2 separate regions of the Homo sapiens genome follow, and region 2 is linked to region 1. Evidence: fine-mapped expression QTL. A gene starts in region 1. The other region holds a variant in brackets. All regions are shown on one strand. Distances are from middle to middle.

Evidence for each region. PIP is the estimated chance that this variant, and not a neighbour inherited with it, causes the effect. A credible set is the group of variants that fine-mapping cannot tell apart.
Region 2: its variant is the best candidate, but not a certain one, in a credible set for the expression of LINC02731 in tibial nerve (GTEx, PIP 0.67).

What each region holds. Positions count from the first base shown.
Region 1 is chr11:134,029,050-134,034,418 of GRCh38, forward strand. It overlaps LINC02731 (long intergenic non-protein coding RNA 2731), which reads left to right and starts at 3,223. Exons shown (of 3, transcript NR_027276.1): 1 at 3,223-3,811. RefSeq lists enhancers at 2,087-2,586, 3,287-4,014, 4,015-4,742.
Region 2 is chr11:133,889,042-133,894,410 of GRCh38, forward strand. No RefSeq gene overlaps it. Among named protein-coding and RNA genes, the nearest start is that of MIR4697, 6.9 kb to the right of the region's middle. The variant G/C (reference allele first, on the strand shown) is at 2,779.

The DNA.
Region 1 (5,369 bases):
TTCTTGGGAGGTAGTTTGCAGTCATTGGAAGGGCTCAGGATTAGGAGTCAGAAGACTTATGTTCTGTTCCCATTTCTGCCACCAAAAAGCAAGGTGGGTTGGAATAAGACAGTTTGCCTTTTTGGGCCTCAGTTTCCTCTTCTGTAGTAATTGGGCCAACTAGTCCACTCAGATTCTCTAAATTGCTTCTCTGAGCTCTGGAACTTCCTTATATGTATTCCATACCTCCCTGCCCCTACTGACATGCCTTCCAACCCCAACAGCCCAATGTTTCTATCCTATCCAGACCCTGCCAAAATAGAAAGAGTACAAGGCAGTTGGTTTGTTGGTGTTATGACTTCTTTTCTTTTCAGGCAAGAAGTCAGATTTAAATTGTGCCTCAATCAGCACCGAAGCTGGAATGCTCAAGTCTCCTACACAATGGCTTACATAAAAACAGCTCACCTCTCATTTCTCTCTCTCTTTGTTCTGCTCTTTTCCAATCACTCGGTCAAGTAATATCTATTAAGTGGATATGTCTGCAAGGCACTGCGCAGAAATGTAATCCAAAATGACAAGGTCCTTGTCCAAGAGGAACTTAACAATTCCACAAGGATCCAGCACAGATGGGAGCTTTAAAGACAGCCCACTGCCCTCATGCAGGGGGGGAAGATAAAGGATTTTTTTAATGCCTTTTAATGTTTTAAAGTTTCTTTTACCTACTTCAGTTGTTAATTTTATAGTGACATCATGTTTTTGGTGTCTGTCTTTGAGTGTTAAGCCTGTCTTCTGTCTCCTCATCCAGGGAGGAAGTCAAGCTGCTCCAGACATCAGCACTCCACTTCACAAACTCACCACCCATGCTCTCTCCTGTGGGGACCTCAGCTTTGCACCTGGATGTGCCAACCTGGCTCCTGCATTTCCATACCCCAACACAAGAGTCTCAATGCAAGGGTTGTAACATGCCAGCAGTGTCTGTACAAGCAAACGATGGCACTCGTAGCATATGGAGGGCGTGGGGCAGTGGAGCTGTGCCTTCCCCTCTCCTGAGGCCCCTGGGCTTCGAGCAGTCTTCACGCTCCTGAGTTCTTTCTCAGAATTCCCTCCTAAACCTCTTAGCGAGTAAATGCTGCTTGCCATATCCTCTCTTCCTTTAGTCTTGACGCCTAAATACTCCACATCTGCTCCATAAATAATAACTTCTCTAGAGCTCTTTATAATTTACGAAGGGCTTGCACCTGTAGTTTCTCATTTAATCTTCTCAACCATCCTGCGGGACAGGGTTATTATTGCTCCTTCTTTACAGATAAGAACCTGAAGCTCAGGGAGATTTAGTGAGGGGCCCAAAGCCTCACAGCTGGACCCAGCTGAACTAAGCTGGACTTAACCGAGCTCTTTCGGCTTCTATATGAAATTAGAGGGAGAAACTGCTTCTCCCCACTGAGTTCTCTCCTCCCCTAACGTGTCACATCCCCTGCACCTGGTGTTCTGGGAAGCTCACATCTCAAGCTCTCTCCTGGACTCCTTATACTGCACAGAGCCCAGAGCTCCAGACACAACAAGAGGGGGTTCCACAGAAGAAGGGGAATAAAAGAGATAAAAGAGAGCCAAGGGCACCTGCTGCTCACTCCCGACCTGGGGACCAGGCAAAGTGGCCCAGGCCAACGTTAGAGTCCTCTGTGGTGGGGTCAAGGGTTTAAAACACATAGTGTGGTTTCAAGGGTTTCTTAGGGTTGATTTTTTTTTTCCTAGACAAATACAAAGAAAAATGAAGAAAAAATTAGGACAATGTCCCAGGAGCCTCAAGTAAAAACTAGGAAGCAGCTGGTGGTGGAGGAAAAGCCACGCCAGGGAGATAGAAATGGAGTCTCCAGGCCGGCTGAGGCGTGTGTTTAATGGAGGCCGGCTGTGCAGGTAGAGGACGGAAGTGTCGGGAGCCCTCCCTGCAGAAGAGGTGTGTCGACCCCACAGCTGCCAACGTGTCCCAGAATGAGGCCCCTCGTGAGTCTGCAAGGGCTGGAAAGCAAGCCTGCCCCAGGTATGCGTGGGGCGGGGGCTGAGCCTCCAGCGCCCCCAGTGTTCATAAGGAAGAGGTGCGTGGGAGCTCCCTGGGGGCTCAGGCCAGGGTCAGGAGCTGTGGAGAACTGCGACCACCCTGCTCCTGGCTACCTCGAGCCCACGCTGGCTCATTTGGCAGTGAGAAGACAAATGCCAGGTGGGGCTTAGGAGGAGGACGGTGGGGAGCATAGAGAGGTCGGTGGATGAGAAAGACGGGAGGGGACTGGGGCAGAGGAAAGGGCTGGGCCCCCAGGATGAAGGGGAAAGGCAGGCAGGTGATCTGCAGGTGGGAAGGAGAGAGAAGATGGGAGCAGAGAAGAAACCATGAGGCCAGATAACAGGGCAGAGAAAGGAGACGGAGAAGCCACAGGGGCTCGGGGAGTGACGTGACATGTGGGTCACCTGTGAGGGCAAGCACCCCAGTCCTCTCTTCCTAAAGGCTGGTGGAAACAGGGGGTAGAAGGTGCCGGATGCCTGCCACTCATGCCCTCTCCTGCCTTCCCCCGTCTCCCTCATCTCTGTACCCTCCCCTGGGGGCTGAGCCCAGGTTCTGCTCTGCTTCTGAGTCCTCTTGTCCCTCAGTTGCCACTTTCTGCGTTTTTCCAGACTCTTTCTGTCCATTCACCTGCCACAGACAAGGGCTAAAAATTCAGAAGCCAAGTTTCTGATGCCAGCTCTGTTCCTCAAATGCTGGGCCGCACTGGTGGAGTGCCCTCTAGTCTGAACTCCACAGCTGCTTCATTGATACCCCTCCCACGGAGTTGTAAGGGGATAATAGAGCGGATGAAAACGGACTGTAAAAGCACCAAAGGATGAAGACACTTTGGATCCTACGTTTATTTCCAGGACTGAAGCCCTCGGGTTTCTTTAAGAGGAGACGTCCTTGTGCTCGTCCTTGTCCTCGTCCTCCTGTGCACCATGGCTTTTGCTGTGGGCCTGACACACCTTGGGGCTGCCTTGTTTCAGGTCAGAAGAGGAGAACTTGTAGAGTGAGCCATGCTTGGGTGGAAGGTAGGTGGGCTCACCAACATCCTCTACACAATTAGTACAGACTGTGATCTGAGGTGGCGTCCTAGAGCTAGAGGCTAAGAAGTCTCATGCCTGAAGCAGATCTAGGCATTTAACACGCAGAATAAGCTAGGTGGGTTTTCAAGGAGCTGCTGAATATGCATGAGAGGCAGCAAGAGAGAGAGCAGGAGAATGAACATGGGGGAGACGCAGAGAAGCACACAGAGGCATGACTGATAAGGGCAGAGGAGGAAAGAAGGTCTCGGAGACCAGGGCATGAATGTGGTTGCACAGAGACGGGGAGAAGGATGGGGAGAAATGAGGAACAGGAAGAAGATTCCGAGAGAAATAAAGAGGCCGAGAGGAGCTGAGCCAGGCAGCCGGTGGAGCAGGCAGATGGAACAACAGAGACAAAGAACAGAGCCACAGAGTGGGCACACAGCAAGGCCTGGCAGCCAAGCCCTGTGGGTTTGGTGGGAGCAGATGCTTGTATGGGAGCAGCAGCTGATGGCCCCCAGCACGTGCATCCTTGTTGACTCCAGGCCCAGCACAGCCTCCTCGGCAGCCGGCCTTAGCCTGGAGGAGCAACCCTGGTCCAGAGAGGCAGACGAATGGCAGCCCTGCCCCGTGGGGGCTCCGGTTCTTCTCCTCCATCCTCCTCCAGGCTCCGCCCACCTGCTCCGTCTGCCTCCCAGGGCCTCGTGAATCCCAGGGAAGCCATGAGCTGCCACATCACGCCCGGAAGGAAGCGGGCTGCGTTGGAGGGGTGAGTGTGAACCGCTGCAGTGTGCTTAGCTCTTCCTCGGGTGGGAGCATGTGCAGGGGTGTGCACGCTGTGGGAGGGGCGAGAGGGGGAGAAACGTCTGGGCTGCACGGGAACTAGCGCCAAGAGGCTGGGACGAGGCGGGGTGGGGACAGATCCCCGGCAGCACTGCTGGCACAGCTGCCACGCCCAGAGCCCTCTCCACCCCTGGCTGCCTGGATGTGAGCATCTGCAGCTCCTTGCCGCCACCCAAGCCACCAGACTGCCATAACCTCTGAGCGGAAAGGATCTGAGTGGACCCTGGTTTTTGGGTCAGAGGAGCCTTGGGGCTTCCTTGACCTCATTCTCTCCAGCTGCTACCCACAGGCCATTTTCCCATCACTCTACAATAGTCTGGTGTGAGTGGTGCCCCCACCCCAAGAAGCTCAGAAGGGCCAGGGAGAGGGAGGTTTCCACCAGGACCTAGCCTTCGCCCCAGTCCAAAGGCAACTCCCACACTGCCCTCCACACCCCCTCAAGCCCCTCCACAAAGGACATCGTCAGAACACTACAGGGACACCCCGACATCAGGCTCCCCACTGTGCCTGGGGCAGTCCTCGCTGGTCCCACACCCAAGGTCAGGGGTGCCTGCCAGTGGCCCAAAGTGCACAAGAGGCAAGCCCTGGGAGGGAAGAGGGTAGAGGGGAAGCGGGTGGGGAGGACAGTGTCGATTGCAGGCGCAATCCGAGCAAAAGACGGGCACCACAGGAGCCAGATGGGCCAAGAAGAAACAGAAGTTCAGTAGGAAGAGACAGATAAACAGCAGACACCAAGCAAGCAGCCAAGCATATGCTTTGCAAGCAGGCAACACAAGCACCCAGTAGGGTTTGGGGGCTGGGGAGGGTACATGAGCCCACAGGGAGGGGGACATTAGGTTTGCTGTGGGCTGACTCTGCCTGGTTAGAATCAGTGATCTAATCCTCTCCACGGAGCCTCAGAAACATGGAGCTGCAGCCGGTGCTGGCAAGGAAAAGCAGCGTTTGGCAGGGTGGAAGGAAAGAGTGCTTATGCTGGTGCCCGAGAGATTGGTCTCTGGTAGAAGAAACATAGCCCCAGACTTGGAAGCCCGAATAGCCACGTGCTGTCTCCAAGACTCAGAGCAGAGACCCCTAAAGCTGAACCGGATTCACAAGAGGAGCAGAGGACCGCCTCCCGCAAACCCGGGAAGTCCTTGAGCCCTGCAGGTGCCGGCTTTCCCTGCTAATGAAGCCCATCTAGGCTGGAGCCCTCAGTCTGGGTGATGTCATCCTTTTGAGCTTCAGGCAGGCAAGGGGTGGAGCCAGGCTAGAGCTTTGCAGAGTTTGCACGCTCCACCCCTGACTGCTCTGACTTCTGGGCCCTGTCTACCCAGCTCCCTCTTGGCCACGGCTTCCTGGCCAGCCCTGCTGGAAACCGGGAGCTGCTGCAGAGCTGGAGGAGGGAGGGGGTCACCCAGATCACCTCTGCAGAGAGCAGGGCCTGGCCGGGGATGGGCTTCACAGAGGCCCTCTTCCACCCATCCATGCTTGTTCCTACGTTCACT
Region 2 (5,369 bases), 140 kb before region 1:
TTACAAATATGCGATCTAGAAAAGTCAAACAGCATACTTTGAACAGAGACAAAGAAAGGATGGAGGTGTTCAGTGTTGGTAACAAGGCCAACCAGATAGCCTAAAAATCCTCTGCCCCTAAAATCTAGAATGCTGTATAGGATGTAGCAAGCATGCCTCTGAATGCATAGCTGAGTTGATAACTTCTTTAGCCAAAAGTGAAGAGAGAATTGGAAACCAGAGTGCTAAGTATAGGCCGATGCTCCAGTTGATCTGACAGAGAGAGAGGTAGGCGAGAGGGGAAGGGTCCAACCTCTAAGAAAAGCACAGGGACTGGCCCCTGGGGAGAGGTATCAAACACACAGGCCCTTGCAAGGCAAACTGTCAGTCCTGACAGAAAGCCAGGCCCTTCAAGGGACCACATCCTCGGGGAAAGGACCAACACATGGAGACGGGGATGCTCATTTGTCTTAATCTGATGTCCACGTGATTTTAGACCTTCTCTTGTCTCTCAATGAAGTCTTGCCATTTAACTCATAAAGGTCTTGCCCATTGTTTTCTCTTGTTTCGTTGTTGTCGTCACTATTATAAAGATGCCTTTTAAAACACGTTGTTTTGTTGCTGGTATAAAGAACTCCATCCACCTTGGGTTCAGCAATCTTGCTTGGTTCTCTTACTGTTTCCAATGGTTTGTCCATAGATTCTCACAGATTTTATATATAGATATTCATATCACTTGAAAATAATCAATGTTTTATTTTACTTTCTTTTAACCTTTTCTTGATTTACTTTTTAACCACATCAGTTGGATTTTCAGCCCAATATTTCATGGTGGCACTGATGCCATTTCTTTTCTTATTCTAGGCTTCAGAAGGACTGTTGCTCATGATTCCCCACAAATCATAACAGCTTCTGTAGGCTTCAGTAGACACTCAGTTCTGCATCAGCACCTTCAAGCTCAGCCCTGGCCTCCCGAGGACAGCTGTGCTGAGCTGCTCATCCATGCTGGAACCCTCTCACCAACCCATCCTTTATCTCCCTGGTGAATGGAGAGTCCTCCAGCCCAATCAAAAAGCACAGGCAGCCAGTGGGTCTTCTGGTATTCTAGAGTAGATCCATTCTAGCACGCCCATTTCCCTAAGCCTTTGGATCCCTTCAGCCATGATCTGCAAGGGAGTTCTGACACATCTATTTCATTTCATGTGGGCCGTCATTCTCAACAAGCCTCTAGGAACCACTCAGCAGCCATAAGAATTGCCTTATGGGGCCCTGGCAAGATTATTAAAACCTGTATCACTGGTGGGTGCCCCCATAACAACAAACTCTCCCCTGAAGAGCTTTCTAGTCTGGCCCCCTTGGCCCAGGACCCTCAGGATTCACCCCCAAGCACACTCCCTGGTCTGTGCCCAACACACACTAGCCAGATCCTTCAGCTCCTTGAAGAAATCCCTCTCCTCTCTTAGCAGAACCAATGCTTGCCTAGGGGGATATGCTGAGCTTTGATTCTCTTATTGGTCTAAGTGATAAGAAGGGACAAATGGGGCATCTGTGGATGGGAAAGCTGCTGAGGAAGTCAAGAACTTCTTGTAGAATACCTGCTTCATTTGAAGCATCTGCCTGTTCTTCAAGCAAGGAGGGGTTTCTGTCTTCCAGAAACGGGGAAAGGCCATTTTGGCAGGACCAGAAGTTTTGGGGAATCTGGAGACTCAAAGCCTTCCAACACATTTCTCTCTCTTTTCCCATCCCAGATGGTGGGTCTCAGTCTTTTCCTATTAGACCCTGACTTTGGCATATGAGACTCATCTGGTCTGAGATTCAGCCTGCTCCAGAATTCTTCTTCTCTAACAGTTAAGTCCTGGGTCTGGTCTTCAGCTTGTTCTGCCCTCCTGCTGCATATGGGAGTCTCTTTAAGGCCACCAAGGAGGCATGCTGACTCTCCTTTGCTTTAAATTGGAGATTGGCTGCCCTGGTCCTGCCTTTCCTCTCTTCAAAGCCTCAAGGGCATTCGGCCACTCCATCCCACAGTTCCTATCAGTGGTCTTTCTTCAGAACCTCTCAAATATAAGATGTTCTATGAACCAGTATATCCCTTTTCCTTGTACCTTCCCTGAGTTCTACATGGGTGGCCATCTTAGCAACTGCACTGCTAACACATACCAGCAACTGCTAATACTGTACCTGCCGCTATGATGGGGTCCTTTTGCCAGCCAGTGGTGAGTGACCTAATTCCTGAGTTCCAACCTTAGAGTCCCCTGGCATCCAGTCTTAGACTGGGTTCTCTAGGTGCAAAGCCTAAGCCAGGCAATGGGGTGGGGGGTGTTTTATTGTGGAAACTTCCAAGAAAAAAACTAAAGAAGTAAGGAAAGCTAGACAGGATTGGGGAAAGAAGTGATGAAGGATGTCATCTCAGGTGAATTCTAGCTGTGGCCTGATCCTGGAAAGCATCATAGAGACACCCTCTCTTTAAGGCAAGCAGGTGGCCTTTTGTATCCCTGTGCCAGCCATTAGCTGAGGGTCACTCCTGGCAGAGGAGCTTGTCATTTCTTGGGCAAGGGGGCTCACGTCAGTGAAGGGCACCTCTCCAGTGATGAGCAGGGTGGGAGGCACCTGTGAACCATGGGCCACCAACATGCAAAGAAGCCAGGGGATGGGCACACCCATCTACTAGAGGGGAACTGGATAGGACACTTTGGCACCCACAGTGCTCCTGAGCCCTAGAGCTATGATGTCCTGGGAAACTTCCACTCAGCAATCAGCTGTGCCATCAGAACTTCCCCTCTGCCTCCTAGCCCAAGATTT[G/C]TCAATAGTCACTGTCTCCACTTTCTCATCAACCCACTCCCACGGGGCTTCTGTCCCCACCGTGCCACTGAGGCCGCCTTGTCAACATCATTAATTACCTACCTCTACACGACACTCAGCTGCTTGTGTGCACCCCTTCTCTTCTCTGTCTACCCTCCCCTTCTAGGATTTAAATACCATCTCTCTGAGGACAATTCCCTAACCTGTATCTACACTGATAGGGTCCCTCTGGAATCCCAGGCCCACACATCTAGTGGCATCTGACCTGACATCTCCAATGGGAAGTTTAAGGACCGTTTCAGACCTTACAACTCTTGATGTCTGTCCCCTTTCATACCTCCTCCTCCCCCAGTCCTCTTTCTCAGTTGCTCAGGTCAAAAGCCAGAGTCATTCTTGATTCCTCTCTTTTCTTCACTCTCACGGCAAGCTTTTCAGCAAGTCTGTCGCCCCTCCCACACAGATCCAAACTGGTCGTCTCCTCTCCGCCTCTGCTGTGGCTGTCCTGGTCTAAACGCTTCTCAGCTGGGACTGTGGATGGCATTGTCATCTCTCTGTTCCCTCTGCTCTCACCCTCCTATAGTCCGCTCTCCACCAGCAGTCAGAGGGGTATTTCTAATACATAAATCAGATCAAGGCTTTGCCCAGCTTAAAACTCTCCGGTGACTTCCCAGCACCCCGAGAATACAATCTAACCCTCCTTCCCTTTACAGAGCCCTAGTGTGTCATTCATCCTCTTCCGCTGCTCTCTCCTTCCCTTCCCACTCATGGCTCACTCTATTCCTCAAACAGACCAAATCCACTCCTACCTTCAGGTCTGCAGAAACAGCACCTCTGCTTGGGAGGCTCTTCTCTGCTGAGCTGTACCTGACTGGCCCCTTCTCAACAATGTGAGGAGGCTTAAATGTGACTTCGAAGCCATCTTCCCTAGCCACCCAACCGAAAGCAAACCGCCCGTCACTCCACACCATCCTACTCAGTTCTACAACCCGCCTGTCACTCCACACCATCCTACTTGGTTCTCTGCATAATGCCCATGACACTTTCACAGGACTGGGTTGTTGATTGACTGGGTGACTGGCTGGATCCCTACATTAGAATGTAGGCTGTGGGAAAGCCAGGCCTCTCTGCTGGTTCCAGGCCATTTCTCCCTCCTCACACTGCTCCTCTGAGACGTGTGCCTTTTGGGTTGGCCACCAACAGGACTGATGGGGGCTCCACTGCCAAGGGGCTTCCACACTAGTGAGGCGGACGCACAAGGAGCCGGTGAAACGAAGCGCAGTGGAAGGCTGTACTGAGGTCAAGGAGCTGCCGCTGTGAAGGCCCACACCCACGAGAGGATGAAGGGGCCTCAGGTGTGAAGGGACACTTCCTGTTGCCCTTTGATGATTAAGGCCCCAAACTGAGGACACACAGGAGCTGAGCATCCCGCCCTGTCACGGAGCGCTGGTTACCTCCAGCACAGCTGAACAAGAGGCGGCACAGCTGGCCGTAGCAGCACACCAGGATGGCAGCAGGAAGGAGACGAAACAGAAGGTTGAAGTCCAGTCACTGGCCTTCTGAGGAGTGCCTGGAAGTGCTAAGAGGCGTTTCCCTCACCCTCCTTATGTGGGTGGAAAGGGCGTGCTTCTCCCTCAAAGCCAAGCGAGATAATGCTTCATAATGATCTGGCATAGAGAGGGGGACTGCCCGCAAGAAGGAGAAGGTGGCATTTCTCCTCGGAGGATGCCACTGAGCTGCAGACACCTGCACTCAGCCTGTGCTGCCAAGGCAGTCCCCGAAGACTTAGACGGGAGCCCTGTGCGTCTGCACAGACGTGTGTCTCCTGCCAAGAAAGGCTGCCTCCCTCCCTGCGGGCAGCTGCCTCAGAAAGGCCAAGGGATTTCCCCAAGGTCCCACTTTTTTTTTTTTTTTTTTTTTGAGACGGAGTCTGGCTCTGTCGCCCAGGCTGGAGTGCGGTGGCGCCTCTCTGCTCACTGCAAGCTCCGCCTCCCGGGTTCACGCCATTCTCCTGCCTCAGCCTCCCGAGTAGCTGGGACTACAGGCGCCCGCCACCACGCCCGGCTAATTTTTTGTATTTTTTTTTTTTAGTAGAGACGAGGTTTCACTGTGTTAGCCAGGATGGTCTCGATCTCCTGACCTCGTGATCCGCCCGCCTCGGCCTCCGGAAGTGCTGGGATTACAGGCATGAGCCACCACGCCCAGCCGGTCACCTCTTTCTTAACGGCACAGGCAGCACAAGGACTTTTTCCAGGGGTGGGGGGCGAAGGCAAGCCACTGTGAATGCAGATGACTTCACCAAGGCTGAGAAGCACAGGCAAAAGCAGCTTCGCAAAAGCAGTGATGAATCTAGGACGGGAATTGCAGGGTGCTGCCCACCTCTCTAGGCTGATGAACCAGGGCATCATGCAGTTCTTCTTCAACACTAGGTTTGTAGACAGATGGCTCCTAGGCCCCGACCGCAGAGGAAAGGGTTCCATGGAAATGGGGAAAACAGCCCAAAAAGGGAGGCTGGGGGCACAGGAGACTGGCTAGTTTACCTACAGCACACCATCTGCGTGATGATGCAGACCGCTGAGTACCCCAGGACTAGC